Linked DNA regions of Homo sapiens. The protein of the gene in region 1 binds, or shares a complex with, the protein of each later gene. Links are inferred from orthologs where the notes say so. Each region holds a gene or a part of one and is shown on either strand. Other genes may lie near its edges. The genes, in order: GNAT1, PDE6G, UNC119 and RHO.

Evidence for each region.
Region 2: the proteins of GNAT1 (region 1) and PDE6G are in contact, whole or in part, in a cryo-EM structure (PDB 7JSN), measured with the Bos taurus proteins. The link is inferred for Homo sapiens from one-to-one orthologs. Residues at the interface, in NP_851365.1 of Bos taurus: Ser140, Arg201, Arg204, Lys205, Trp207, Ile208, Phe211, Asp227, Val229, Glu235, Val236, Asn237, His240, Glu241, His244, Leu245, Ser248, Ile249, Ile281, Phe283, Glu305, Leu306, Met308; in NP_776846.1 of Bos taurus: Arg36, Gln37, Phe38, Lys39, Ser40, Lys41, Pro42, Pro43, Lys45, Leu60, Val66, Ile67, Cys68, Pro69, Trp70, Glu71, Phe73, Asn74, His75, Leu76, Glu77, Leu78.
Region 3: the proteins of GNAT1 (region 1) and UNC119 are in contact, whole or in part, in a crystal structure (PDB 3RBQ), measured with the Homo sapiens proteins. Residues at the interface, in NP_000163.2 of Homo sapiens: Gly2, Ala3, Gly4, Ala5, Ser6, Ala7, Glu8; in NP_005139.1 of Homo sapiens: Asp87, Phe88, Val89, Arg90, Phe91, Ile105, Lys106, Lys107, Gly126, Arg127, Phe128, Val129, Tyr131, Phe137, Val147, Glu163, Leu172, Ser218, Tyr220, Asn230.
Region 4: the proteins of GNAT1 (region 1) and RHO are in contact, whole or in part, in a cryo-EM structure (PDB 6OYA), measured with the Bos taurus proteins. The link is inferred for Homo sapiens from one-to-one orthologs. Residues at the interface, in NP_851365.1 of Bos taurus: Ala27, Arg28, Asp189, Leu190, Val312, Glu314, Tyr316, Asp333, Ala334, Asp337, Ile340, Lys341, Asn343, Leu344, Lys345, Asp346, Cys347, Gly348, Leu349, Phe350; in NP_001014890.1 of Bos taurus: Leu72, Arg135, Val138, Val139, Lys141, Ser144, Asn145, Phe146, Arg147, Val230, Ala233, Gln236, Gln237, Ser240, Thr242, Thr243, Lys245, Ala246, Glu249, Val250, Met253, Met257, Asn310, Lys311, Gln312.

What each region holds. Positions count from the first base shown.
Region 1 is NC_000003.12:50,187,360-50,194,983, reverse strand, and holds the start of GNAT1 (guanine nucleotide-binding protein G(t) subunit alpha-1), read right to left. Parts: upstream 3,375-7,624; 5' UTR 3,259-3,374; coding exon 3,153-3,258; intron 1,852-3,152; coding exon 1,809-1,851; intron 1,720-1,808; coding exon 1,578-1,719; intron 1,479-1,577; coding exon 1,321-1,478; intron 1,232-1,320; coding exon 1,103-1,231; intron 893-1,102; coding exon 763-892; intron 484-762; coding exon 330-483; intron 220-329; coding exon 29-219; 3' UTR 28-28; intron 1-27. Other genes in the region: SEMA3F (semaphorin-3F isoform 1 precursor), read right to left, coding at 6,869-7,279. UniProt on the Homo sapiens protein: Functions as a signal transducer for the rod photoreceptor RHO. Required for normal RHO-mediated light perception by the retina.
Region 2 is NC_000017.11:81,653,429-81,661,355, forward strand, and holds the start of PDE6G (retinal rod rhodopsin-sensitive cGMP 3',5'-cyclic phosphodiesterase subunit gamma), read right to left. Parts: upstream 3,115-7,927; 5' UTR 3,065-3,114; intron 299-3,064; exon of another isoform or gene 230-298; intron 1-229.
Region 3 is NC_000017.11:28,549,625-28,557,942, forward strand, and holds the start of UNC119 (protein unc-119 homolog A), read right to left. Parts: upstream 3,001-8,318; 5' UTR 2,934-3,000; coding exon 2,714-2,933; intron 2,469-2,713; exon of another isoform or gene 2,441-2,468; intron 1-2,440. Other genes in the region: GPI-anchor transamidase component PIGS, read right to left, coding at 4,596-4,871, 5,227-5,437, 6,542-6,642, 7,203-7,348. UniProt on the Homo sapiens protein: Involved in synaptic functions in photoreceptor cells, the signal transduction in immune cells as a Src family kinase activator, endosome recycling, the uptake of bacteria and endocytosis, protein trafficking in sensory neurons and as lipid-binding chaperone with specificity for a diverse subset of myristoylated proteins.
Region 4 is NC_000003.12:129,531,440-129,536,379, reverse strand, and holds the end of RHO (rhodopsin), read right to left. Parts: intron 4,130-4,940; coding exon 3,964-4,129; intron 3,848-3,963; coding exon 3,608-3,847; intron 2,773-3,607; coding exon 2,662-2,772; 3' UTR 1,036-2,661; downstream 1-1,035. UniProt on the Homo sapiens protein: Photoreceptor required for image-forming vision at low light intensity. Required for photoreceptor cell viability after birth.

The DNA.
Region 1 (7,624 bases):
AAGAGCCTGGAGAGGGCAGCGACCTACCTCAGAAGAGGCCACAGTCTTTGAGGTTCTCCTTGATGATGATGTCGGTGACAGCGTCGAAGACAAATTTGACGTTCTGCGTGTCGGTGGCGCACGTCATGTGGGAATAGATCTCCTTCACGTCGCGCCGCATGTTGAGCTCGAGGAACTGCACCTTGATGTAGTTGCCGGCGTCCTCGTAGGTGTTGGGTCCTGCGGGGGCGGGAGCTCTCACTCTGCTCAGCCCTTCCTTCCCCGTGCGGGGGGTGCGCGCCGCGATCGTGGGGCGGGGGCGCCGCCTGGCGGCCTTGCGGACTTCTCACCATCGTAGTCCGGGAAACAGATGCTGAGGTGCGCCTTCTTGATCTTCTCGAAGAAGACGTCCTTCTTGTTAAGGAAGAGCACGATGGACGTCGTGGCGAAGTAGCGGTGGTTGCAGATGCTGTTGAACAGGTGCAGGCTCTCGTGCATGCGGTTCTGAGGAGGGCAGCAGCTGTTGGGCACCCGGGGTAGCGTCCGACCCGCAGCACCTGCTCTCTGGGCTCCCGGGCACGCGGGGCTTCCCGCTCAGCTGGCTCTCAGAGGGCTCCCCGCACTGCCCCAGATGGGCCTGCTGAACGCCTCCGGGCCTCCTCAGGCCGCCCGGGACAGGCATCCCCTCCCGTGCCCTCCCCCAGCCCAGCGCGCGGTCTCCGCCTCCAGGGACCAGCAGCTCCTCCTCGCCCCCCTGGAACACAGGCCCTGCCTGGCACGCACCACTTCGTCGTCCTCCACTAGCACCATGTCGTAGGCGCTCAGCGCCGCGATGAAGATGATGCAGGTCACGCCCTCGAAGCAGTGGATCCACTTCTTGCGCTCCGAGCGCTGCCCGCCCACATCGAACATCCTGCGGGGCCGCGGGGGCCTGAACCTGCGCCCCGGGCCCCACAGGCAACATCCCTTCGCCCTGTGCTGGTCGGGGAGCTCTCGGCCGGGACTACCACCCTTTCTGCTGGCGGGGTATCAGGGAAGGGGCAGGGTCTATCGCAGGGATGGGGTCCCCGGGGCAGGACGGGGCCTGGGGCAGTGACCTCCTGGGCTAGCGTATGGGTCGTACCGGAAGTTGAGATCCTTGAAGGAGAACTGCGTCTCGATGATGCCAGTGGTCTTGACTCGCGAGCGCAGCACGTCCTGCTCGGTGGGCACGTAGCCCGGGGTTACCAGGCGCTCCAGGTCGGAGAGGTAGCTGCGCGAGACCCGGCCGTAGGTGGGTGGGGAGGCGTGGAGGGCCCCCTGCGCCCCGCGCCCCGCGCCCCGCGCTGCCCGCGCGCTCACTAGCCCGCCGAGTCGTTGAGCTGGTACTCCGAGGCGCGCTCAAAACAGGCCTGGATACCGGAGTCCTTCCACAGCCGCTGGATGATGTCCGACATCTCCTTGGGCATCGTGCCCTCCTCGATAGTGTCTGCCATGTGCATCAGCTTCCGGGCGTCGTCCTGGGGGCAGGGTGAGAGTGGCTGGTGGCGGCCAGGGACTCGGGCCCAGCCGCGAGCCTCGAGTCCCCAGAGGCCCGCTCAGCCCGCCTCCTGGCACACCTGGCGTGCAGAGTCTCCGTACTGGATGTTGAGTGTGGTCATGGCGCGTACGATGGCCAGGATGGACTGCAACGTGTTGCCGTAGATGATGGCGATAAACTCGAGGCACTCTTCCAGCGAGTACCCGTCCTGGTGGATAATCCTGAGGCCGAGGAGAGCAGAATCAGCGCCTCGTGGGGAAGTGGGGAAGGACCCAGACCCAGGGGCCTCGGGACAGGCAGGGGCACTCACTTCATCTGCTTGACGATGGTGCTCTTCCCGGACTCACCGGCACCTGAAAGAGACGCGGCGCCTCAGAGCTGCGCTGACCAGCCTGCCCCCTCCAGCAAGGAGGCCAGGAGGACGGGGACCTCCCGAGTTGGCAGGGTGGACCCGCAGCGAAGAGGCCTGAGCGCCAGCCCCGACCCCGTAGCCACACCTACCCCCCCATCCAAATTAAGTCCTGACATCCTGAAGTCACAAGGTTTGCAAATGCCAGGAAAGTGAAGAAAGGAAGCCAACGAGGGGACTCAACGACCTCAACTGTTCTGGGACAGGGGAGTCCCCAAGACCCCGGCACAGGCAGCCTTTATTATGCTGTGAGACTGCAATGAAGAAATCCCGGAGCGTCATCGCCACCTCGTGGGAGCCTCTGGTACCGCAAGCACTGGGTTATTTGAGGCGGGTAAACCCCTTGCATTTCACCTGAAGGGGTGCAGGTGTCTCCAGGAGGCTCAGAGGGAATTAGCTCTTTTGGGTAGGAGGGAGGGCAGAGTTGACATCCTTTCTGAGCTTGCCCCTGCGAGGGCGTTGGGCACAGTTAATGAGATTTCCGGCTTAGCCTCTCTGCCTTGGGGGAAAGTGGGACTGGCTTGGTCCCTCACCCACCTCCAGCTGGTTGACCAGACCCTGGGGAGCTTGGGTGGAGCCCCTCTTGAAGCTGCTTTTTCCCCTTGAGAGGTCAGGCAGTGACCTTGAGGCAGGCCTGGATCAGCCCCATCTCTCCTCAGTGCCCATGGTCCAGTGGACGCGGCTTTATCTACTCCCACTGGGCCTCAGTACCCGCCAGCCCCTCTGGCTGCTTTGTAGGTCTATCAGCCACAGCCCTCTGGCACCTGAGGGCCATTCGTTGTGGATCTGGGTGGTCCTAGAGGCTCCCCACTCCCAGGAGGACTATGGCCATCCCCTTCCCAAAGTAGCAGCCCAATAACGGGCTCCCAGTGAGGCTCCTGGCTTCTGAGCATTGCCTAGCAGGCGTATCAAACCAAAGGCTGCATGAAGCTTGCGGGAACCCAGCCACGGAAAAGTCGGCATCACACACCCGTGCAAGAGTGTGGTTGGCACGCACTTCTGGGGAGGGTGGGTCACCTGAGGCAGAGCCGTCTGGAGAGGGGCTTTGTGGGATGTCCAGCCCTGGGGGACTAGGACACCACCTGTCAGGCCTGGCCTTGCTTGGCCAGGGCTCCCACCCTGTGCCCTACTCTGTCACAGGCTCATACTGCTTCCCAGGGAATCCTTGCTTCACAGAAGGGCTGCCTGCCTGCCTCCAGACCAATGACCTGGTGGCAGTGGCCCCACCTGGGCCCACACCCCTACCCAGAAGCAGCAGCTTCACGGTTCGAGCATCCTTCTCAGCGTCCTCTTTCAGCTTCTTTTCCAGCTCCCTGGAGTGCTTCTCCTCAGCACTGGCCCCAGCCCCCATGGTCCCAGCAGCAGGCGAAGGGACAGAGTGAGCAGGTGGTTCTTCTGGATGGAGGGGATCCCCAGAACCTGGCCTCCCAGGCACCCTTCTGGCCCCAGGAGGACCTGCAATCAACTGGCTCTCTACGGACCTGTGCAATCCCTGGTGGGGCTGCTTAGTGGGATTTGGGGGCTAGGGGTGTCCAAGAGCCAATCAGAGACAAGGACAGGTGAATCCAGCTCAGCCCCCCCAACCCTTCTAATCGGGCTGGCATAGCCCCAATCCCTCAACCGCTGACTCTGCACTCCGGCTGTCCTTCTGTCCCCGCAACCCTCCAGGAGAGGCCCTGGCACTGCCTGGGAGTGGGGAGACATGTTCAGTAGGGTCAGGGCTGAGAAAGGGGAAGGCAGAACCTTGAGCCCTGGGGGTGAGGACAATGGAGGTGGGGCTGGCAGTGAGAGGGCATAATTGGGAGAAACATGCCTGCTGCCTGCCCGGCACCAGGCTCAGCACCACTCCTTATCTTGTTGTAAGCTCACACTGGCCCTGGAGTATGGATGCCCATATCATCAGCCTCATTTTACTGATGAGGAAGTAAAGGCTGAAAGGGTCACACAGTAGGAAGTGGTTAAGAAGGGCTGGTGACTCTGGACTGGGATTTTATGACCTGCAGGGAATCCAGAGAGAGGGAAACAGTGGGCATTGCATTCATCCCATATCACAGGCTGGAGCTGCCCCAAGGAGGTCCTCTGCTTCCAGCGGACTGTGGTGGGCATGCATATCTGCTCTGTGTGCCTCGGTGTATGTGTCTTTTTTTTTTTTTTTTCTGAGATGGAGTCTCGCTCTGTTGCTCAGGCTGGAGTGCAGTGGCGCAATCTCAGCTCACTGCAAGCTCCACCTCCCAGGTTCACGCCATTCTCCTGCCTCAGCCTCCTGAGTAGCTGGGACAACAGGTGCCCGCCACTACGTCGGGCTACTTTTTTTGTATTTTAGTAAAGACAGGGTTTCACCGTGTTAGCCAGGATGGTCTCAGTCTCCTGACCTCGTGATCTGCCCGCCTCGGCCTCCCAAAGTGCTGGGATTACAGGCATGAGCCACCGTGCCTGGCCTTTTTTTTTTTTTTTTTTTTTTTTTTTTGAGACAGAGTTTCACTCTGTTGCCAGGCTTGAGTGCTGTGACACGATCTTGGCTCACTGCAACCTTCAACTCCCTGGTTTAAGCTTCTCCCACCTCAGCCTCCCAAGTAGCTGGGATTACGGGCATGTGCCACCATACCCAGCTAATTTTTTGTGTATTTTTAGTAGAGACGGGGTTTCACCATGTTGGTCAGGATGGTCTCGATCTCCTGACCTTGTGATCCACCCACCTCGGCCTCCCAAAGTGCTGGGATTCAGGTGTGAGCCACCTCGCCCGGCCATGGGTGTGTCTTTTGCTGGCACCAAGCGAGCAATAACTTGACACATTTGTGCATGAATACCTGTGTGTACATGTGTGCCTGCATGTTTATGCCTTTGTGAGTGCATGTGCTCTTATAGGAATCACGTGCCTGTGCGCATGCTTATGTATGTGTGCACATGTATACACATGTGTATGCATGTGTGAATATGCTTTGTGTATTCTCTTCATGCACACATAGGCTTGTGTGTTTTGCAGTTTGTGTAGGTTTGCATGTGTGCACTTGCTTATACGCAGGGGTGTAAACATGCCTGTTTGTACCTGAGCATATGTGTGCCTGTGCATGTCCATCTCTGCCTGTGTATGACTGTGTGTGTGCATGCATGCTTGCAGGCGCCTGTGCCTATATGTACACTTGAATTTGGGTGCAACAAAGTCTCTAATCTGCAGAAGTGGCCAGGCTCTTCCAGAGAATGTTTTGCAGGCCTGTTGCCAGGTGGAGAAATTGCATCCCAGAGCAGGTGTAGTGTTCCCTGGGGTATGGAGGAATGGGGCTCACCTATCCTGCTCCTGCTCTGTCTGCTGTGGGTGCTCTGAGGCCTGCCTAAGATTATCTCCAGGGCCTGCCTGCCTCAGCTTAGGGGGTCTGGTGCTCTGTTCAGGTGCAGGGCTCACTGCCGGGCAGAAATTGTTCAGGTTGAGCTCCCAGGTTCTAGAGACTTCCCACCCTCAACTTCCATAGGAAAACCCAAATCTTGGGCTCTCAAAGGCTCCTCCAGGCACCCTGAGCCTCCTGGCTGGACTCTTCCCTGGAACCTGGCTGCCTTTCAGCACTCAACTCTGCCACAGACTCAAGAGACCACAAGGGGGTGCCGGGGCACCAGACACTGAGCACTAACGGCTGTCTCTAAATAGTATGCGTGGGAAGTGAATGCTGGCTCCTACCACAGGCTGGCAGCTTCTACACCCACCCTGTTGGATGATGGGGATCTGTCCAGGAGTGAGGCCGTTGCATTTCTGCCACTTTCAGCCTTCAGGCTCCACCCACCCTCCCTGACCCTGAGGAGTGAGTGGGCCCTGAGGGGTCTCTACAGCCCTTCGCACTACCCAAGTGTTTGGGGTGGTGCAGCAGCCCAGGTTTGTCAAACTAAATGTGGTTTCTACATGTTGGGTTTCTTTAAATGGAGCCAATCTACTCCCTTCCCAGCCCCCCACCTGGCTCCCCAGGCCCACCACGTGTGGCTCTAAATCCCCTGACCAAGGAGAGAAGCCAAAGTCTAGTCCCAGAGCCAGTGTTTATTAGCAAGATGGAACCCAAAGGCGGCTGTGGCCTGGGCAGCAGAAGGCCACCAGGAGCCCCCACCCATCTACCCAACTGCCCCCCAGAGCTAATTACATCCACACCCATCCCCTGAAGTGGTGGACATAAGGGAGCCCTGGGGAGCCTCTACCGGCCCCAGGCCTCTACCACGGACCCCCTCCCCTCAGAGCTGGGGCCTCCCGTCAGCTCTGCCTGGGCCTGGCCCCTCTGCTATGCTCCCAGCCTCTGAGTCAAAGTGGCACAGGGAAAGCTAAGGAGGTAGAGTGGGGTGGCCCTGCCCTGGCCAGGCGGGGAGGGGAGAAGGGGCTGAAGAGGCTGTCCCACCCAGGCAGGATGCCTCTTCTCCTATCCCCAATAAATAGAGAATAAATACCCAGGAAGGGGCTGGTCGTGGCTGAGTGCCCCCAACCCAGGCAGGGGCTGGCATCCTGTGATGGCCCCTTCTTCCCTTCTCTGTGTGCTCTTGAGGCCACCCCAGTCTCCAAAGTGGTCCTCGCATCCATGTCTATGCCACAGCACAGGCTGACAACACACATCAGAAAAGGTGGACAGTCCGTGCCCCATCCGAGTAGGGCTTGCTCCCTCCCTTTGTCCTGTAGATCTTGGCGGAGGCTGTCCAGCAGGTAGACTTCCAGCTGAGTCTGGGGACTGTGTGGTCCTGGCCTGGCCCCACCAACTGGCTGGGCCTGGTTAGGCAGGCTCTGTTTTCTGCCGTCTCTGACCAGCATGGGTCTAAGTTTTGGAGGATGCTGCCACTGAGGCAGGCTATATTCAACCCACCAATAAATACTGTCTTTGCAGGGGCAGGGTGTGTATAGAATATAGATATTTTATATATATATATATATATATATATCTTTTATATTAAAAGGGACAAGGGCTAGGCTGGCCCATGGCAGGCACAGGCAGCTGGCCTCATGTGTCCGGAGGGTGGTGCCGGCGGTTCCGGGGCTTTTTCTGGTCCTGGGGCTCAGGAGACCGGGGTGCCCCTGGAGCCTCCCTGGGGCTGGGGGGCACATGGCGCCAGTAACCCTGGCAGTACTGGTGGATGAGGCCCACTTCTGGCTGGGCCAGCAGCTGGGCTAACTCCTGGTAAGGAGGCGTTGGGGGGCCTGCGCCTGGGGGTGGCGGGGCGCTCATGGACAGTGGTGGGAAGAGGGCAGCATGGACGGCGTCCCGGCCCAGTACATGCAGCTGCACTCGTGTGACGACGTGCTTAAAGTTGTTCTCAGTGGCTGTGCAGGAGTAGAGGCCACGATCGCTGAGCTGCAGTGCACGGAGCAACAAGCCCTGCTCTGTGCGCAGGAAGCGGTCCTCTGCACGAATCTGCAGGGGCAAGGAGAGGGGGTTCAGAGGCTCTGTGACCACCCTATGGCCCTAGCCAGCAACCAGATCAGACCACCTTTGTGGCCATTCCGTGTAGAGGCACCCATGTGGGATTTCCATATGCCAGAAAAACCACATGAAGTTTCTACATAATGAGAGATATTTGAATAAGGCATCTGTACAGATTTCCATTTCAGGAGTGATGACCATAAGGAGGTTCTGTACAATGAGGAAAATTTGAAGCACACACAGAATTCCTTTTTTTTTTTTTTTTTTTTTTTTGAGACAAGGTCTGGCTCTGTCGCCTAGGCTAGAATGCAGTTGAATGATCTCGGTTTACTGCAA
Region 2 (7,927 bases), on another chromosome or scaffold:
ACCCACCGGTGGAGGGGCTGAGACCCAGCCCCGCCAGCTCCAGCGTCATCCAGACAGCAGCCCCTGCAATCCGCCCTGGGGTAACCAGCCTGCCAGCTTTGCTTGGGTCCACCCGCACGCTCCCATTCCCCTTGCCTAGTGGATGCCCCCCTGCAACGCTGGCCACACACAGCTCCGGACTCCCCCCTGTCCTGGCCTCCCTCGCCCCGGCCCACAATCCACAGCAAACCTAGCCTCCCAACCTGTGGCAGGTCCTGAGCCTGGAGTCCTCACCACCTCCCTGTGGGTGACCACTGACAACTTCCTGCCCCTTCCCCTGCGTTCCCCACCCCAGGGAAGCGTGACTCCCGTCGGCATTTAACTGCTACTCTGGGTTTTTTTTTGTTTTGTTTTGTTTTTGAGACAGAGTTTTGCTCTTGTTGCCTGGGCTGGAGTGCAGTGGCACTATCTCGGCTCACTGCAACCTCCGCCTCCCGGGTTCAAGTGATTCTCCTGCCTCAGCCTCCCCAGCAGCTGGGATTACCGGCGTCTGCCACCATGCCCGGCTAATCTTTGCATTTTTGCATTTTTAGTAGAGACGGGGTTTCACCATGTTGACGAGGTTGTCTCGAACTCCTGACCTCATGATCCACCCGCCTCAGCCTCCCAAAGTGCTGGTATTACAGGCGTGAGCCACCGCACCCGGCCCAGCTGCTACTCTGATGAAAGTCCTCTGTGGCTCCTGCTGGGAATGGGCCTGCCAGGCCCAGCAGAGGAGCCTGCCTCTGAGCTGCCCTTCCTGATGGTTAGTGGGCTGCCTCCATCTCAAGTTCCCGCTCAGGGAGGTCTCCCCTGAACCCCCGCCCTGCAGCCACTGTGTCCTTAGGTTCTGATTTGCCGCTTCTCATCACGCGTCGAGTTAGCCCTGATTCCAGGCTGGTGGGCGTCTCCCGGGCTGTTGCCCTCTGATTCTTTTTTTTTTTTTTTTTTGAGACAGAGTCTTGCTCTGTCACCCAGGTTGGAGTGCAGTGGCGAGATCTTGGCTCACTGCAACTTCTGCCTCCCGGGTTCAAGTAATTCTCCTGCCTCAGCCTCCGGAGTAGCTCAGATTACAGGCATGCGCCACCACACCCAGCTAATTTTTCTTTGTGTTTTTAGTACAGATGGGGTTTCACCATCTTGGTCAGGCTGGTCTCAAACTCCTGACCTTGTGATCCACCCGCCTCGGCCTCCCAAAGTGCAGGGATTACAGGCGTGAGCCACCGCGCCCGGCCTAAAAAAGTTTTAATACCTGCCAAAGTAGCCCCCTAGGATCCTATTCCAGAGCTGTGGCTGGAATCTCACCTTTTTTTTTTTTTTAGACGGAGTCTCGCTCTGTTGCCCAGGCTAGAGTGCAGTGGCACGATCTCAGCTCACTGCAAGCTCCACCTCCTGGGTTCACGTCATTCTCCTGCCTCAGCCTCCCCAGTAGCTGGGACTACAGGCGCCCGACACCACGCCCGGCTAATTTATTTTTTTTTTTGTATTTTTTAGTAGAGATGGAGTTTCACCATGTTAGCCAGGATGGTCTCGATCTCCTGACCTCGTGATCCACCCACCTTGGCCTCCCAAAGTGCTGGGATTACAGGCGTGAGCCACTGCGCCCGGCCAACCCCTCTGATTCTTATTGATGGGTTTATTGCTTTCTGCCTCTTGTCTGTGCTTTGCAGTTGGGGTGCTGTCAGTTCCCTTCACCCACTCACGGAGGCATCCCTGAGCCCCTCAGCACCATGACGGGCACCCCGCAGTGCTGATGGAGAATGACCCACAAAATGGGGGGCAGGGTCCCCAGGCACGGCGCCCCTGGGAAAGGGGCCTGTCTCAGAGACTTGGTGCTGAGCTGTGAAGCCCTGCGTTCCCCAACCCCACTTCATAGAGGGACAAGCTGGGGCTTGGGGACGGAGGGTGCCGGGCATGTGTTCCCCCTGCTGGGGGAATCACCAGGCCCTCTCTGTGTCTGGAGTCAGCTCGGGGAGCAGGGTCACCCGCCTGGCGTGGCGTGGCGTGGCTGAAGGGCCTCGGCCGCTCTGGACGAGATCAGTGTCCCTGCACTGCTGCACAGGGTGGCCTCTCCTCCTCCTCTCCCTACAGCCTCTCCCCAGATGCCCTAAGCCCCAGTGACCTGGGCCAAGGGCAGTTCAGCTTCCCCTAAGCCTATTAACAGCAGAGGGGAATTCCTAATCTCCCATCGAGCTGCTGTCAGCTGCACATGCTGCCGGAAAGTTCTGGAAGGAGGCACATGACACAGACAGGAGGGGCTGCTTGCCCGCACTGGATGCCCCAGGGACCACCTCTTGGGGTCCCCTTTCCTGCCCCTGGTCTTTTTGGCTGGGATTCCTGACTCCAGCCCTGGGCTACTACCAGCTGTTTGCCGAGCTTCAGGCGTGAGAGTGATCAGAAAGCAAGGGCAGGTGGCCCATTTTGGGGACGCGGGCTCTGCAAGGGGTGCTGGGCACCTGGGATTGGGGTGGACCCTGCCATGGCACCTTCCCTCACTAAGGTTCAGCCTCTGTCCCCGGGACTGGGACCAGCACCAGCCTGTGCAAAACCAGCACTCAGGAGCCCGGTGGTCCCAGCTGCTCAGATCCCATGGCACCCAATCCTCATATCCTAGATAGCACAGGCCCCGTCCAGCTGCTTCTCCAGCCCTGGGACATGGGCTGTCCTGGGCAGCTCTGGGCCCTGATGGAGCTCCAACCATCAGATGCCATCCATGTGGAAACCGCTGCCTGCGCTGCCCTGGCCCGACCCAGCCTGTGACTGGCGTCCACTCAGGTCAGCTGAGCCCACGTGGCCTGAGGTTCCCAGACCATCACTGGCCTGGGGATGGTGGAAGCACTGGTTACCATGGGGGAGCAGAGGAGGAGGTTGGCTGGGAGTCCCCTCTGAATAACAGGGTGGCGGGTAGGCATCTGCAGACCCAGACCTCAGCCACGGTGGTAAAAGCCTGTCAGCTCCCTCTGCCCCTTGGGTGATGAGCAGACCCCCACTGACTCACTGGGGGAAGTGGCTGCCAGGAAAGACAGCGGGGTTGGCCACTACTCACCAAGTGCAGGGCGGGTCTCAGGGGGCTGTGCTGTGAGTGCTGGGCCTCCCTCCGCAGGGTGCCAGCCCCGGCCTTTATCTCGCTGCTTCATGAGCTGATTAGGCGTCTCAGTGCCACCCTAATGAGATTGTTGGGCCCCGAGGGGGGGCACAACCACCAAGGTTCAGGGGATGGAGAGGAGGGGCTCAGGTGCTGTCAAGGGCTCCAAGGAAGGACACCCAGCAGATGGGGCCGGGACAGGGAGAGAAGTGTGACCCTGAACAGCCAGGCTCCTGCAGCTGCCCATCTTCCAGATGGAAGCAACCACAGTGTCTGCTGTCTTGGGCCTCCCTACTGCCTTTCCTGACCCTGCCTGATCTCTGAAGGGCCCACCTTCATGGTCCCCAAAACCCTCTGCAGCCTGGCCCTCACCCGCTGCTGTGGCCTCACATCTCACCCCTCCCACCCCAGGGCCTTTGCACCTGCTGCTCCTGAAACCAAACAAGGACCCCCCCCCGCCCTTAGGGGCCTGTGGGTCTTCCCAAGCACAGAAGCAAGGACAATGTTGAGTTCCTTCAAGGGCAAGCCAGGCCCCCAGCCAGCCCAGAGAAGGAAATGAGCAGCCGATCCACAGGAAGGTCACAAGAAGGTCACAGGAGCTTAGAACAACAGATGGAAGCCAGAGTCCCGAGAGTCTCCACAGAAGCAAACCATGCCATCTTAGCAGGTGCTCCTCAGTTGTTTTCCAGAAACAGGGACTCCCACCAAAGGGGCGTGCTGGCACACAGACCTCACATGAGCGGGAGCTGAGGACTGGCCTCTGACCACCCTTCTCTTACCTAAATTTCTTCCTGAGGGGCCTGGAGGAGGCTATGCCCATCCTGAGGGGCCTGGAGGAGGCCATGCCCACAACCCAGAGCTAACATTCTTTCCTGCGGATCCCAAAGTTTTAGACAAAGATTCGCTTCTGCACCAAATCAGAAAACCTTTGAATCCACCTATGACCCGTGGTCCCTGGCTTCAAGATCTCCTTGCTATTTATGGCAAAACCAGTGTACAACCTCCATGTACTGATTTATGACTTGCCTGTGACCTCTGCCTCTGCACCTTTAAAAACCCATAACTCAGGCCTGGTGTGGTGGCTCATGCCTGTAATCCCAGCACTTTGGGAGGCTGAGGCAGGTGGATCACAAGGTCAGGAGATCGAGACCATCCTTGCTAACATGGTGAAACCCCGACTCTACTAAAAATACAAAAAAATTAGCCGGGCGTGGTGGCATGTACCTGTAATCCCAGCTACTTGGGAGGCTGAGGCAGGAGAATGGCGTGAACCCGGGAGGCGGAGCTTGCAGTGAGCCGAGATCGCGCCACCGCACTAGAGCCTGGGCGACAGAGCGAGATTCTGTTTCAAATGAATAAATAAATAAATAAATAAATAAATAAAAACCCATAACTCGGCCGGGAGCAGTGGCTCTCAAACAGCGCTTTGGGAGGCTGAGGCAGGAGGATCACTTGAGGCCAGGAGTTCAAGACCAGCCTGGACAACATAGTGAGACCCCCCCATCTCTACAAAAAATAGAAAAAATTAGCTAGGTGCAGTGGCTCACTTCTTATTTTATTATTTCATTTTTGAGACTGAGTCTCGCTCTGTTGCCCAGGCTGGAGTGCAGTGGCCTGATCTCGGCTCACTGCAACCTCTGCCTCCTGAGTTCAAGTGATTCTCCTGCCTCGGCCTCCTGAGTAGCTGGGATTACAGGCTCCCACCACCACGCCCAGCTAATTTTTAATATTTTTAGTAGAGACAGGGTTTCACCATGTTAGCCAGGATGGTCTCAATCTCCTGACCTCGTGATCTGCCCACTTTGGCCTCCCGAAGTGCTGGGATTACAGGTGTGAGCCACCGTGCCTGGCCACAGTGGCTCACTTCTATAGACCCAGCTACTTGGGAGGCTGAGGCAGGAGGATCCCTTGAGCCTAGGAGCTCGAGGCTGCAGTGAGCCATGGTCAAACCACTCCAGCCTGGGGGACAGAGAGAGACCCTATCTCTGAAGAAATATGAAAATTTTGAAAAATTAAAAATAAAACCTGGACGGGCATGGTGGCTCACGCCTGTAATCTCAGCACTTTGGGAGGCCGAGGCAGGTGGATTACTTGAGATCAGGAGTTCAAGACCAGCCTGGCCAACATGGTGAAACCCTGTCTCTACTAAAAATACAAAAATTAGCTGGGCGTGGTGGCATGCACCTGTAGTCCCAGTTACTCAGGAGGCTGAGGCAGGAGAATCGCTTGAACCCAGGAGGTGGAGGTTGCAGTGAGCTGAGATTGCACCACTGCACTCCAGCCTGGGCAACAGTGAGACTCTGTCTCAAAAAATAATAATAAAAATATAAATAGTAAAATAAAATAAAATGTATGAGTACTCCTTTTTTGGTATCATGTATCACAGACAATATACAAAGACAATCACATGAAAATACATAAAGCTCCAAATAGACCTAAACAAAGACCCTATAGCCTTGATTGTAAAACTCTAGCCATGAGACTGGCAAAAATCACTAGTCCAGAAAGGACGGCTGGATTCAAGTTATGCTGCAATAAATGGAACAAGTCAAAAACCTCTTGTCCCACATGGCTCAATCCCTCACTCAGCCCCAGAGGAAACAAGATTGCAATCCATATCTTTTTTTTTTTTTTTTTTTTTTGAGAGACAGGATCTGGCTCTGTCACCTAGGCTGGAATGCAGAAGTGAAATATCGGTGGCTGCAGGAATTCAAGGCTGCAGAGAGCTATTATTGTACCATTGCACTTTAACCTGGGTGACAGAGCGAGACCTCAACTCTGAAATAGTAAAATAGGCCAGGCATGGTGGCTCATCCCTGTACTTTTGGAGGACGAGGTGGCTGGACCACCTGAGGTCAGGAGTTTGAGACCGGCCTGGGCAATATAGTGAAACCCCATCTCTACTAAAACTAAAAAAATTAGTGGGGCGTGGTGGCGGGCGCCTGTAGTCCCAGCTGCCAGGGAGGCTGCGGCAGGAGAATCATTTAAACCCGGGAGGCGGAGGTTGCAGTGAGCTGAGATGGCGCCACTGCACTCCAACCTGGGCGACAGAGGAAGACTTCATCTCAAAAATAAATAAATAATAAAAAAGAAATTAAACGGTGATGTGGAACACTCTTTAAATTGTCGTTCACCACATTTTCATATCTTCACAATAATGCAAAACACAGTCACTTGCAGAACCGGTTCTGATGACTTAAATACCAGGTACAATTTTAGCCCTCTACGTAATTGCTTGGAAGTTACTTATGTTTACATGAAATGAAACTATTAGGCCGGGCACATTGGCTCACGTCTGTAATCCCAGAACTTTGGGAGGCCAAGGTGGGCGGATCACCTGAGGTCAGGAGTTGGAGACCAGCCTGACCAACATGGAGAAGACCTGTCTCTACAAAAATACAAAATTAGCCGGGCGTGGTGGTGCATGCTTGTAATCCCAGCTACTCAGGAGGCTGAGGCAGGAGAATCGATTGAACCCAGCAGGCAGAGGTTGCAGTGAGCCAAGATCGTGCCATTGCACTTCAGCCTGGGCAACAAGAGCGAAACTTCATCTCAAAAAAAGAAAAGAAAAAAAGAAAAGAAACAAAATGAGACTATTAGGCTGGGCACGGTGGCTCACACCTGTAATCCAGCACTTTGGGAGGCTGAGGCAGGTGGATCAGCTGAGGCCAGGTGTTCGACACCAGCTTGGCCAACATGGCGAAACCCTGTCTCTACTAAAAATACAAAAAATTAGCCAGGCGTGGTGGCAGGTGCCTTAATCCTAGCTACTGGGGAGGCTGAGGCAGGAGAATTTTTTGAACTCGGTAAGTGGAGGTTGCAGTGAGCAGAGATTGTGCCATTGCTCTCTAGCCTGGGCGACAGAGACTCTGTCTCAAAACAAAAAAATGAAGCTATTAATACTTTTCTACAGCAGTAACTACACACAGGAAGACCAAGACAAGCACAAGTTAAGGAATGGAGCTTTCCCAAAGCGGCTGTGTATAAAGACTATAAACTGTTTTTTGTTTGTTTTTTGAGAACAAACAAACTCACTGCAGCCTTGACCTCCTCAGGCTCAAGCAATCCTGCCACATCAGCCTCCTGAGTAGCTGGGACTACAGGTGCTCACCACCACACCCGGCTAATTTTTGTATTTTTTGTAAAGATAGAGTCTCACTATGTTGCCCAGGGTGGTCTCAAACTCCTAGACTCAAGTGATCCGCCCGTCTCAGACTCCCACAGTGCTAGGATTACAGGCGTGAGCTGCCGTGCCCGGCCGGACATACGTAGTTTTTTGCCATGGCTTTTCTTGTGTTCTCTATCTACAGGCTAAGCAGATTCTGTGTGCTGCCCTGGGGTCTTTAATTACTTCAAGTGCTCATGTTGAACTATGAATATGATTGTGTGTGTGATTGTTTTGTTTTTAGAGACAGGGGTCTCTGCCACCCAGGCTGGAGTGTAGTGAGGCAATCATGACTTACTTCCGTCTTGACTTCCTGGCCCAAGTGATCCTCCTGCCTCAGCCTCCCAAGTAGGTGGGATTACAGGCACACACCACCATGCCCAGCTAAGTTTTTAAAAATTGTTTTGTAGGCTGGGCATGGTAGCTCATACCTGTAATCACAGCACTTTGGAGGCCAAGGCAGGAGCCCAGGAGTTTACGACCAACTTGGGCAACGTAGGAAGACCCCCATCTCCACATACAGACACAGACAAAAAACAATGAACCGGGCATGGTGGCACTTGCCTGTAGTCCCAGCTACTTGGTAGGCTAAGATGGGAAGATCACTTCAGCCTTGGCGGTTGAGGCTGCAGTGAGCTATGCCTGATGGTGGCAGGAGG
Region 3 (8,318 bases), on another chromosome or scaffold:
ACCCCCATAGAGAAGAACACAGGCTAGGCCAGGAGGAGGGTGTGGCAGGTGCAGCAGTGGGTGTGGAAGGGGTAAGGGGAGTCCTCAGGCCCAGGAAGGGAACCAAGAACAGTGGGAGGCCCTGCCTGAGGAAGCTCAGGGAGCTACAGGGCCTGATCTAACCCTCACAGCTCTTGCAGCAGCAACTTCAAGTGCTCAGGGAGGCCCTGGCAACAAAAAGAGCTGAGAGGTGCAGGGAGGGACTCGTGCTGTCAGCCTGCACAGCATCACATCCTCCCCTGGTGGCCCACAGAGGCCTGGAAATCACCCTCCAGGCCCCTGGGCCACCTCCTATTCCTCTGGGGCAGGAACAGGAAGTGAATATAAAGTCATTTTCTCTTCCCCAGGTCTGCTTCTTCCCCAAGCCTGACGCTGTCCCCTCCAGGAAGCCCTCCTGGCAGCCATCTGGTACCCTGGGGCCCAGCATGGACTTTATACAGCTTGGGGAAGAGGCAGGGCCCTGAGTCTACTACAGCCCACATGTGGGGTGGGGAGAGAATGGAAGTGGGCAACCCCTATCTCACCCCATTCACCCTATTTTCACAGAAAGTAAGCACCAGTATAAAGACATAGAAAGAAGGTACAGAGCATAGGGAACGGAGGTGGCAGAGTGGGGAGCAGGATCCCAGTGCCCAACTCCCAGATCCCTGTAAGGCCTTCTCTTCTCCCATTCTCCAACTTTTGGAGCCTCTCTCATTTGGGAACAACTTCCTGCAGTCTAACCTCAGTCTCTTCTACTGCAAACTCAATCTATCAACCTCTCTGTCCTTAGAAGAAGTGAGGAACACGGATATCTATGGCTCAGAACACCACGGCCACTCCTTCTCTTCTAGAAAGGATGAGGCCTGGGACCCAGGGTCAGGTCAGAATAAGGGGCAGAGTGGCCAAGGGCTCAGAACACAACTGCTCTATTCCTCTCAGCCACAAATAGCTTCCTAAGCTGGATTCAGGGCCCAGTAATCTGGGAACAGCAAACCTCAGACCTGCATGATTAGGGTCAGAAGAGACCAGGCAAGGGGTGCCAGGGTGGAAATCCCTGGAACTCTGTTCTCAATTCCTGCACAGGAAGGGGTTCTCATGAAGCCCTTTCCTCTACTTACCCTTCACAGATGCCCCATCTCTAAGGGCTATGAATTTCCTCCAAATTAGGAGACAAATGGTGGTACATGAGCTGGAAGCTCCCTCTAGTTGCAAAATAAACCCCCAAAGTTACTCAGGACTCAGTCAGTCTGAGAAAGTTCTGCCCCAGAGCTAAGCTGAATCCTAAATGCTGCTATTGCAAATTGTAGCCCAACTGGCTTCAACATCAGCCTGGTCCAGCCTCCCTCTCTCCATTGATGCCTGCTTGGGCAAGGGAGCTCAGTACTCTGGGGGCCCAGCTAAGAATGGCTGCTGCCTAGCTCAGTAAGGAGAGAGGAATTGGCCCCCAGGGACCCAGGAGCACAGGCTCAAGGCTGTCTCCCCTCCACAGCTCTGTCTGGGAGTCCGGTGTTCTGCTGCTTTGGAAGCTCTAGGGCTCAGGTCCACTCCAATACATGCCCCCCATACCCACAGAGAGGCCCCCCCCAACAGTTATTCTCACAAAGGGGGCCAGGGCAGGTTGCTGGTGAATGTGGCCAAGGTGGAGAGCCACTGTCTCTCCATGCACCTTTCATCCTTTGAGGCTCATCCAAAGCCTCTGCTATGAGGTTTCCTAGCCCTCGTTCCCTGCCTATGATGACCCCCTCCCCTGCCCTGAAAGCCAAGTTGTTTGACTCCAGGCAGCAGCTATGAGCAGCCCTGTAGGGCCCAAAAATACTACTGATCAAAGAGCCCAATGTACACAGCATGCATAGATGCCAGGCACTGTACAGAATCAGAGGACTTATCTTCACAATAATCTTACGAGAAAGGTATCATTATCCCCATTTTACAGATGAAAAGACATGCTCAGAGAGGTGAGGTTACTTGCCCAAGGTCACACAGACAATTATATGGCAGAGTTGGAACTCCAACCCAGGCAGTCCAGCTCAGAAACTCTTAACCACAGTGGAGACCAAGCCTCCCTTGATGACAGAGCCCCCAGAAGAGGACAGGTGCTAGTCCAGGCTTGGAGGGACATTATGCCACTCCCCATGAGAGGAACCACAGCCAACACACTAAAGCTGCCTGCTCAGTTTCTTTCCCGGGGAAGAAAATGGCCCAAGTCTTCCTGGAGGATCAGGGTGAGGGTATTAATGGTTGGGGAGACATGAAGAGTCTGAATGCCTCCCAAGTAACTCAGCCTCCACCTAGCCTCCAGCGTGGGGGCTGAGGACAGGCTGCACTCAGCCCCTCTCTTCATTAGTGCAGGGACGGGCCTCAAAGCGCTCTGGAGACTCCACAGCTACAGGGCTATGGTTGCAGCTGCTGCCGCACGTACCTCCACGCTGGGAAAAGGGGACGGGCCCCTGGAAAAGGAAGGAATAAATCTCGAAAGGGAGAAGAAGGAGGCACAGAGAGAGATCAAGGGAAGGGGGTACACAGAGATCTCAGACCTGGCGGCAGAAGGGAGAGCAGGGGACACAGGAGAGGGGACTCGGTGGGGGAGGGGAGGCGGGAAAGGGGGCGGGGGCCAGGGCTTGGCGCGCCGGGAGGGCCCCTCGCACCCTCTCCCCTTCCCACCCGCGGGCGGCGCTCCCTCGCGGGTGCTCACCACCGGTGATCCGCTGCAGCCCCAGCACGTCCTCCGGCCCGATCGGCTGCTTCCTCTGCAGCGGCCCCGGCCTGGGCCCTGGGCCTGCGTCCGGCTCCGACTCGGACCCAGATTCGGATTCCGCAGGCGGCTGTGGTATGGGGGCCACGCTCTGGCCCGAGGGCCCCGGAGCGGACTCCGTCGCCGTCCCGGCCCCACCGCCGCCCTTCTTCACCTTCATGGCCTTGCGGGGCCGAGGCTCGCCTGCTGCTGCCGCCGCTGCCTGCGCCGGCTGGAGCCGGGGGAAGTGGGAGCATCCGCAGCCCCGCCCCCGGCCGGGGCCCCAGGTACTGCCCCGCCCCGGCCCCGCCCCTGGGGTGGGCCCTGCGCTGATCCCGCCCGCCGCCCGGCCCAACCCTCCCGAAATGCGACGGGCGCGGGGGATGGGAGTCGGGGTATCCTGCCCTGGGCTTCATTCTGTTTTTCTAACACTTTCTTGTACTGGTACTAGTGGGGTCCTGACTACCTCTCCGCTTACTCATTGTGTTCCAGCCTTTCTGCCCGTGAGTTCCAGGCTCAGGGTCTCTGCTTGGATGGTCTTCCCCAGATGGCCTCTTTTCTCCTAGTCACAGCTCAAATGTCATCTGCTCAAAGGGCCTCCCTCACACCCAGTCTGAAGTCCTTCCCCCTCAGTCACCATCTGACCAGCCTGTTTTTGTCTTTCTAATGCATTATGTGAAATTATTTTTATTTGTCCGCTGACTCTTCCCCCTGAAAGCTCAGCTCTGTGAAAGCACTGGTCCTGCCTACTTTGTTCTCTGTAGGACCCCTGTACCTAGCAGAAGGCTCCCTGCAGCTGGTGCTCAAGACTTTTTTTTTTTTTTTTTTTTTTTTTTTGACCTGATGAATTAGTATCTCAGGTAAAAAGCAGATGCTAACAGCCTTGGGCAATCCAGCTAGGAAGGGCACATGGCCACGTGGAAGCAAAGTGGACCTGTGGGCACAGGAGGACAAACACCAGGAAACTGTTACTTACGCGTGAATGCAGAAAGAGTAGAGCTCAGACTTTGTATCATTCCAATTCATATTCAGCCAGTGTTTATTAAGAGCCTACTACACGCCAGACACTTTACATGCTGATCACATTTACTCCTCACAACCATCTTGTAAGGGAGACATCATCAGTGCCATTTGAACAAATGAAAAACTGAGGCTCAGAGAGATTCAATACCTTATCCAAAGCTCTCCAGACAATAAGTGCAAAAACAAGGATTTGAATTCAGGACTGTTTGATTCCAAATCTGGAACTTTCTGGAACCTCTGACACACACACACACACACACACACACACACACACACAGCACCATGTCCTGAGCTGCTGCCTCCTGGACTCCCGCCAGACTGCACCTGACAGACAAAGCCAACTAGGAGGGAGGGGAGTGAGGGAGAAGGTCCCACAGGTGACCAATGCCTGGCCCCTTCATGACAGCAGGGGCTAGGGCTGTCCCACAGGGACTAGAGAGAGGTGTGGAAGGCAGGGACTTTCCCATAATGCTCCCTCCTCTCAGTGCACAAGTGTGCTATGTTGAGAAATGGGGCAAAAGAACAAACAGTCCTTGCCACAGAGGGAGACAGGCAGCAGCCTTATCAAACAAGATAAGGAGACCCGGATGATGTGCCTTTTGAGGCCCCTGGTGGTGGAGGAGGATTGAGCCAGGTGAATGGGAAAGGAAGAAAAGATGAACCCATCTTGGAGTGTTGTACTTTGGTTGCTGGAGAGCCAACAGTGGAGACTGGAGACAAATATTTAAGTCATTCCGGCAGGCCCCATGTACGTGCCTCACAATCTAACACCGCCCACCTTGGCCAGAAAGGAAGGCTTCCTATGGAGGTGCTGCCCTGCTCAGTCTGTCTTCTCAGGCTTTCTCCAGGACTTGCGGGTCTCCAGGAAGATCTTGACCAGGGACAGGAGGATGGGCACAGCCATAGGCAGGAAGAGTGGGATGTAGATGGCAAACTTCTGGTCATCAGGGAAATAAAGGAGGTGGAGGAGTGACGGGTCAAAGAAGGCAAGCTCAGAGGATGTCACAGCTTCCTGGCTGGCGACAAAGGCAGATGCCAGGTGCCCAGACGCCAACTCTTCTGCCGACTTCTGGACGGCAGCTACAGCCTTGTACACCTAGGAAGGAGAAGGGACAAGAGGGTATACCAGTAAGTCCTAGGCATTGGTGGAAAGGGTGCTGGGCCTTACTGTGCCTTCCATCTACCAAGGAAGATGCCTGGAGTTCATCCAGGATCTATGGAAGTCTTTCTACAGGGATATGGTTTATTTTCCTAGGGTCAGCTTGAAACCTCGCACTCTCATCTGCACTCCTGCTTGGGGGCTGGTACTGCCGTCTAGAGGAAGGCTGGGACACTAAAGATGGCAAGCCCACACATACCATGGACCTCACAGGCTCTCTGGTCTCACCACACTCTGGCCCTCTCTGGCTACTCCAGTCCCAAGCTGCAGAATCCATCCCCTGCCTGCTTACCTCAGATGCCACGTCGTCCTTAATGACAATGTTGCTGATCTTGCCCAGAAGCTGCGCCAGGGAGGTAAGGGTGGTGGTGGCTGTGGCCAGGTTCTCCACTGACCGAGCCCAGAGCAGCCGGTCTAGCTCCCAGGTCATTAGCCCTTCACTCGTAGGCCCTGAAAGCAGGCATTTTGGAGGCAGCTGGGGCTGAGCAATCCCAAAGAGCAACCTGTAGGAACATCGGAGTAAGATCAAGGTGGCTGAGACCACAAGGCGGGAGATCATGGCTAAGATTTCTCAAATATCTGTCCTGAGCCAGTGATTTTCAATCTTACCCAGAACCATAGGGGTTAAAGGGAAGTACCTCAGGGTCTTGGGGGCATAAGGGGCAACACCAAACAAGTTGGCCCCAAACGCTGCTTCAACAGGTGTTTCTGCTTTTACCTGTTTCTACATTAGATTTCCAAGATCTTGTTTTTTAAAAAAAGGTTCCATGGCTAAAATACTTCTGATAACACCAACTCAGTTTAATCCTTTCACCTTTTCTACCCTCTCTTTGAACAAATGGGGCCAATGGGACTTAGCATTAAGGGATGATCCAGGACTGCCTTTGCCAAGGCACATGTGCTGTGCTTCTCTAAGCCTGCATCCGTGAGAGACACTGCTAGTCAATCAGAAGAATACTCTTTCCTAATGAGCCCAGATACAGCCTTAGAATCCTCAACACAGAGCCTCAGGCAGCCACTCTCAATCCATCAGGCAGCATAAGAATTAACAGCTATTTTCTTAAGCAGCCCTAATCACACTCCATGGACCTGACATTCATGAGTCTATTTTTCTTAAAACTGGTTTTGCTGGCTGGGCACAGTGGCTCACGCCTGTAATCCCAGCACTTTGGGAGGCCTAAGCGGGTGGATCACGAGGTCAGGAGTTCAAGACCAGCCTGGCCAAGATGGTGAAACCCCGTTTCTACTAAAATTACAAAAAATTAGCCAGTTGTGGTGGCGGGCACCTGTAGTCCCAGCTACTCGGGAGGCTGAGGCAGAGAATTGCTTGAACCCGGGAGGTGGAGGTTGCAGTGAGCCAAAATGGCACCACTGCACTCCGGCCTGGGCAACAGAGCAAGACTCCGTCTCAAAAAAAAAAATAAATGATTTTGTCACCTACTAGTCCTTCTTAGAAGGATGATGGGATCCTTAGAAACTTTTCTTGGTTTCCCTGGGGCTCTAGGCACAGCCAAGATATCCCTGCCAGGTAAGACTTGATTCCACTTTGCAACTCCCCTCTACAGCCAAGGAGACTATGTCCCCAAGTGGATCATCCAGGACCTCACCGCAACTGTGCCAGGAACACCTCCATCACTCGCACCATGTCCACCTCGACTCTCACTGGCAGCACTGAGGCATTATAGGTTTTGGAGTCAACATTATATACCTGAAAGGGGGAATGAGATTGCCACAACATCATACCAGGCCCTTGCACAGCTCTGCCCTAGGCACTCTGGAGAGAAAAGGAAAACATATTCTGTGCTCTTTAGAAGCTATAAACCTCATGGTATAGCTAATATTTTTTGAGTACCTACTACGGAGAGCATTAAATACATTATCCCAATTACCCCCTTGAAAGTCCTGTAGAACATATTTTTTTCTTATCCCATTTTAGAATTCTCCCCCATGAGAAACTTCCAGTCTAACAAGGGAGACAAGGCTCCCAACCTTGCAAGACTCCCACAAATAAGGCGAAGATCTAAGATGGACACAGAATGATCCTAGGTAAGGGCAAAGGGTCACAGTATAGAAAACACTGGCGGAAACAAAAGTGGGGCCGGCAGAAGAGGGGCATGAGCACATAGCACCCTCACCTTCCTGGTGCCTGCCCCTCCCACAGGCTGGGCCATGGAGGACACCAGAAGGAAAACAGAAGGAACACAGTTTCAGGGACACCTGCCTGTCCCAGAAGCATGGGCTCTGGGGTCTGCGTAGTGTGACTATTACCATAATGCCACCCCAGCGGGGACTATGGAAGGCATTGGTGGCCACTGGAGCGCCATCCTTGTCCTGAATGTACAGCGGTGAGTGTGCAAGCTCAGGCACGTAGAGTAGAAAGTTGAGCACAGGGTACAAGGAGGCAGCACTGGATCCTGTGGTATAAAGGGAAAGCAGAATATCAAAACATGCTGGACCTGGACCTTAGTCCCAGGTCGGCCTCTAACTTGCTGGTCACTCACTCTGGGACTGATTCCCCAACTAACAATCATTAGGATATCCTCCTGTCCAGGGTGTCTCTAGTAAAGGGCTTCAGAATGTTCTCCCGAGATGTGCCATACCGATGGAAACATAGTCCTTAGCTCCAAAACACCCCCGAATTCTCCCTCCTCAAAGGCCCCTTGACTGTCTACGACAGCTTTCTTGGCCACTCCCACAATGTACCCATATTACTACAGATAGTTTTATGCAAACCAGAAATCTGACCTTATGTCAGTTCCCTGCTTAATATCCCTCAATCACTAGCCACCCATATCAGGTTAAAGTTCAAACTCCTTAACATGGTCCTTTATGACCTGGCTCCTGCCTGCCTAACCGGCTTCATCTTTGGTCACTCACTCACATTTCAGCCACACTAAACTACTCTGAGCTTCCTGAATGCCTAAGCTCTCTCACTTGTCTGCATCTAAGCTCACAGTTCCCTTTGCCTGAAATGCCCTTCTTTTCTCTACTCAGCACTGTCATAAGGTAGTCCCTCAGTCAATGTTTGCTGAATGAATAAATGAACGGAGGAATTTTCTAAGGCCTCACATGCCACCCCCTCACAATCCTTGGGCCACACTAGCCTGCCTCTGGTATCTGAGATTCCACAATTAGATATACTCACTTTGGTTTGCCTGTGTTACAGTTCTTAGTCACACCTCCTCTTCCTAGTTTCCACCCGAAAAATGAAAAACTCTAATACTAGCTTCAAGGTTATTCAACCTCAATCAGCAGAACTGTCAATTCAAATTCTGCCCTCAAGTACTTTTGCTGTTGTCTTTCCTATGTGTGTGACAGCCTCTCTCCTAGATGGCTTTTAGGGAGATAGACCCAGCCTAGTCATTCATTTGTAAAAAGTGCTAG
Region 4 (4,940 bases), about 79 Mb from region 1:
ATTATTGGAACGCTAAGCATGTGGGAGTTATTTATATCCTACTGCTCAAGGTCATCGCCAAGGTCTGATTGCAAAAATCCAAAAAATTGCAACCTCAGGCATAAATGAGTTACGTATGATCAGGTGACCTAGACTTGGCCAATCACAGAATTAATCCCCATCTCAGTCATGGTGATACCCTGTGCCTGAAGCCCCGGGCTTTTTGTTCATGTGAGCCAACAATGTGTCCCTTTTGCTTCAGCCCAAATGAGTTGGATTTCCTATCACTTGTGACCAAAAGTATCCTGACTGATATTATCTAGTGAGTCACAGTAAAGAGGGACAATGATAGAGATCCCAGCATGATTTGCCCCAGCCTCACCAAGGCACCGAGGATCGGCTATCTCATGCTCCTGCCCTCCTTTCTCACCTCGGAGGAGGGGGTGACTCTCGGGAGCTTTAGCTCCATCCTTTTCCCCTTTGGGACAGGGTCTCTAGTAAGGCCAGCTCTGAGCTGAAGCCCAGTATTGCCATAGTCTCATCTGCTGCATGCCAGGCAGTAGGCTGGCCACTTAAAGTCCACAGTCGCATCTAATCCCCTTAGGATCAAGTGGTTTTTTTGTTGTTGTTTTTTGTTTGTTTGTTTGTTTGTTTGTTTGTTTTGTTTTGTTTGGAGACAGACTGTCCCTCTGTTGCTCAGGCTGGAGTGCAGTGGCGCAATCTCGGCTCACTGCAACCTCCACCTCCCAGGTTCAAGCGATTCTCCTGCCTCAGCCCACTGAATAGCTGGGATTACAGGCACGCGCCACCATGCCCAGCTGATTTTTGTATTTTTAGTAGAGACAGGGTTTCACCGTGTTGGTCAGGCTGGTCTCAAACTCCTGACCTCGTGATCTGCCCACCTTGGCCTCCCAAAGTGCTGGGATTAGAGGTGTGAGCCACTGTGCCCAGCCAAGGTCAGTTTTAAGATTCTTTTTTGCAGATAAGGAAGCTCTGAGAGGTGACAAAGCTTGTTTGCAGTTTTATGGGTTACCTGTGCCTCTATGACCCCAAAGTTGGGGTTTTTCCCATTCCCAGGACTGCCTCCTCCACCTCTAGCCCCAGGGGACTCTGTGCTGCTTGGCTCTGCTCATTGCTCAATCCAGCCATCCCAGGGTCAGGGATCAGGTGGAAGCTGGCAGTTTCAATCTATCCTGTGGATAGAGTGTGAAAGCAACAAAACCCACCACCGTTAATACCAACATAGGAGCTGAGCTTTTAATGGCCCAATTTGCCTTAGTCTCCAGGCAGAGCTGGGTAAAGCTAGAGCTTCTGGCTTTGCTTATATGGAGAAGGGGGAGCAGTTACTGAGGCAGCTTAATTCTGACACCTCAGAGATGTGGCCAGCTTTTTGGAGCAGATTCTCCAGAATGGAGAATGGACTAGCAACTGCTGAAGATGGGCTTGTCTGGCAAGGGAAACTGGAAACTGGGGCCCATGAACATCCCCAAGGAAGGTAGGCCCAGTGGAATTTCCCACTCTTTGTTTCTAAGCTCTTCGAGATAAGGATGACATCAGGGACTCAGCTGTTAATTAAATGTGGGCGGGTGAGCATGGCTTCTAGAGGCTCCATGCTCTAGATGCTGGGACCCAGGTGCTAGAGCAAAAGAGCAGGTGGCTTCCAGAGGCTGAGAGAAAGGCCTGTCTCTCCATAGGCCACATTGGGAAGGGGAGGCACGGGACCTGGGGCCCCACACTAGGGGTGAGACCCCAGGCCCAATCTCACCCTCATTGGGAACTTGGCCTTCACCGTCCCCCTCCCCCAGTGTTGTTTTTTCAGGTCTGATGACTGCATTCTGCATTCCTGTGACTGTCCCTGCCTACAGCCCAACCCCCAGCCCTGGTCTGGCCTTGATGCCTAGCTAATTTTTAAAAACCTGCCCCAAGGTTGGGTGAAACCCCATCATCTGAATGCCCAATCTCAAAATGTTCACTATCAGGAGGTGATAATCATAGTAATTAACTAGTTACATTAATTGATGTTATTCACAACATTAACTAGAATCTGTACAGCTTCTTGCTATTTACAAAGTGCTGAAACACACACATAGACACACACACACCTCTTTTGGTCTTCTCAGTAGCTGCGTGTCGGCAGGACCAGGGATCTGGGATTTCCATTTTATAGGAGAAGAAAGTGAGGCCCAGGGAGGGAAAAACAACTGCTCCATATCATTAGCCAAGTATGAGTTGCTGCTGCTGCGAGGGTCTGAGAGGATAGATATGTTCTCCCTTCCCATTCATTCCTCCATTCCTTCCTGCATCCATCCAGCATTTATTAAGCACCTACTGTGTGCCCCATTCTGTGCTAGACACTTATCCCTAAGCTGGGACACTTTTCCAGAAAGCAAGAATCCTCGTGTTCCTGAAAGATGAGTTGGGAGGAGGAGGGGCACACATCCCGCTGGCCTTGGGGAACGTGGGACTCCAGATCAGTAGGTCTTGGTGGATGTCCCTTCTCAGGCTGTCCCAGGTGAGTGAGGAGCCTCATTAATTATTTCTTAAAAAAAAAAAAAAAATTAAGGAGCCTATGTGACTTCGTTCATTCTGCACAGGCGCTGCTCCTGGTGGGATGGCTGTGGCTGGGGGAAGGTGTAGGGGATGGGAGACGCCTATAGTCGGCCACAGAGTCCTAGGCAGGTCTTAGGCCGGGGCCACCTGGCTCGTCTCCGTCTTGGACACGGTAGCAGAGGCCTCATCGTCACCCAGTGGGTTCTTGCCGCAGCAGATGGTGGTGAGCATGCAGTTCCGGAACTGGAAGGCAAGAGGCTTGAGTCAGGGCCAGGGCTGCCCACAGTGTGCTTGGAACTGGCACGTTAGTGAGGTTCGCCCCGACCCTTTGCCTGCTTCTGCCCCTCACGATTCCAGCGCCCCATCCACTCAAATCCAGCTTCCTGGAGGGAACCTGCTAGGCAGACGCTCCTCACCCCTAGAGATGCCAGGGACTGAGCACAAGGGGGCTGTGTCACCCGTGACATTTCATGGTGCCCTCTGTGTGCCAAGGGTGTTCTGTAAATTATCTCTTGTAATCCAAGAGTTTGGTGTTTTGCCCTTTCTACCTTTCTATGGATGAGGAAACCAAAGCACAGAGAAGGAAATTGACTTGCCCAGGGCCATACAGCTAGAAAATGGCAGAGCTGACTTCAGAGACTGTTTACCCAACTGTTTACCCCTCGGAGGTACCTCTCCGAGGAACCCTTTACCCCTTTACCCCTCAGAATAAGACTTTTTAGCTCCTTATTCAGCTTTATGGAGACTGGCCCATCCCATTCCCGACTTGGGTCCTTCTGACTTTGACATTGGGCTTCCAGAACTAGCTGACTGGAGCTTCTCCCACCTGAGTGAGCATCTGAGCCACCTGTGGAGGGCTTGCTGGAAATGCAGGTTCCTGGGCCCACCCTGAGATTCAGCAGTTCTGAGTGGGGCCAGGAATCTGCATTTCTCACACACTCCCCATTGGGACTGCTGACCCAAGACTGCTGCCAGTAACCCTGATGGAGCCCCCTCCCCTGCCCTGGGAAGTAGCTTGTCCTTGGCAGGCAGCGCCTGTGGCCTGGGGCACTGGGGCCCTCCCACCCGCAGTAGGCACCTGCTTGTTCATCATGATATAGATGACAGGGTTGTAGATGGCGGCGCTCTTGGCAAAGAACGCTGGGATGGTCATGAAGATGGGACCGAAGTTGGAGCCCTGGTGGGTGAAGATGTAGAATGCCACGCTGGCGTAGGGCACCCAGCAGATCAGGAAAGCGATGACCATGATGATGACCATGCGGGTGACCTCCTTCTCTGCCTTCTGTGTGGTGGCTGACTCCTGCTGCTGGGCAGCGGCCTGCAGGACACGGGACCCGGGTCCAGACCATGGCTCCTCCAGGGAGCAGGAGCCGCAGATGCATGCTGGGGGCTGGACCCTCAGAGCCGTGAGGCCGCCCACCCCCCGGCCCGTACCTCCTTGACGGTGAAGACGAGCTGCCCATAGCAGAAAAAGATGATAATCATGGGGATGGTGAAGTGGACCACGAACATGTAGATGACAAAAGACTCGTTGTTGACCTCCGGCTTGAGCGTGTAGTAGTCGATTCCACACGAGCACTGCAGGCCCTCGGGGATGTACCTGAGGACAGGCAGGTAGGGAGACCCTGCCTGTGAGGGACTTGGGAACAGCCAAGGTGGCTGCCGAGCGCTGGCCCTTTCTGGGGCTTCACATTCCCTCCCTGGAAAAGGGGATCATAAACGTCTGCATGGCTGGGTGACAGGATGGAATGGATCAGATGGGGATGCAGATGCACCTTGTGGAATCAGTGTCGCTTCATTGTTTGGTGGCTGCGTTACCAGATGACACCACCCAGCCTCTCCCTGCATGCCCAGCCCCAGCATCCACTGCCCGCTGAGGCTAGGGCTATGCCACGCAGAGGGTTGGTGAGGAGGTGGGGAGAGCCCTCAGGCTCTGCATTTGAGGAAGTTTGTACAAACCGAGGTCTTCCTAGCCCCAGGGTGAGAGTATTTTCCAGGCCAAAGATGGACACACAGAGTATCTAAGGGATCTTTGTGCAGCTTCTGGAAACTAGAGGCTTCCAGCGCACGTCATTAGGACGTGGCAATGGTTCCTGATATTGGTGACAGTGGACGGGCCTCAGGAAACCCAGAGCGTCCAGCGGCTCTGCTTCCAGAGGATAGAACTAGGCCAGATTGGAGAAGATGGGGAAAAAGTCCAGGGGGTGGGCTCAAATTCAGCAAGGGGTAAGAAATGGACCCTAGCAAGACTGAGGAGGAAAGGGAAGTGAGAGTGGGAATTTTCTGGAGACAGAGGGACATGAGGCCTCTGGGGACCAGAGTCACCAGTCCTATTGTCCAAACCACTGTCCCCACTGTGTCTCATCTCAGCCCCATTAGGAGACAATCGCCTAGAGGCTGAGTGGGACCCA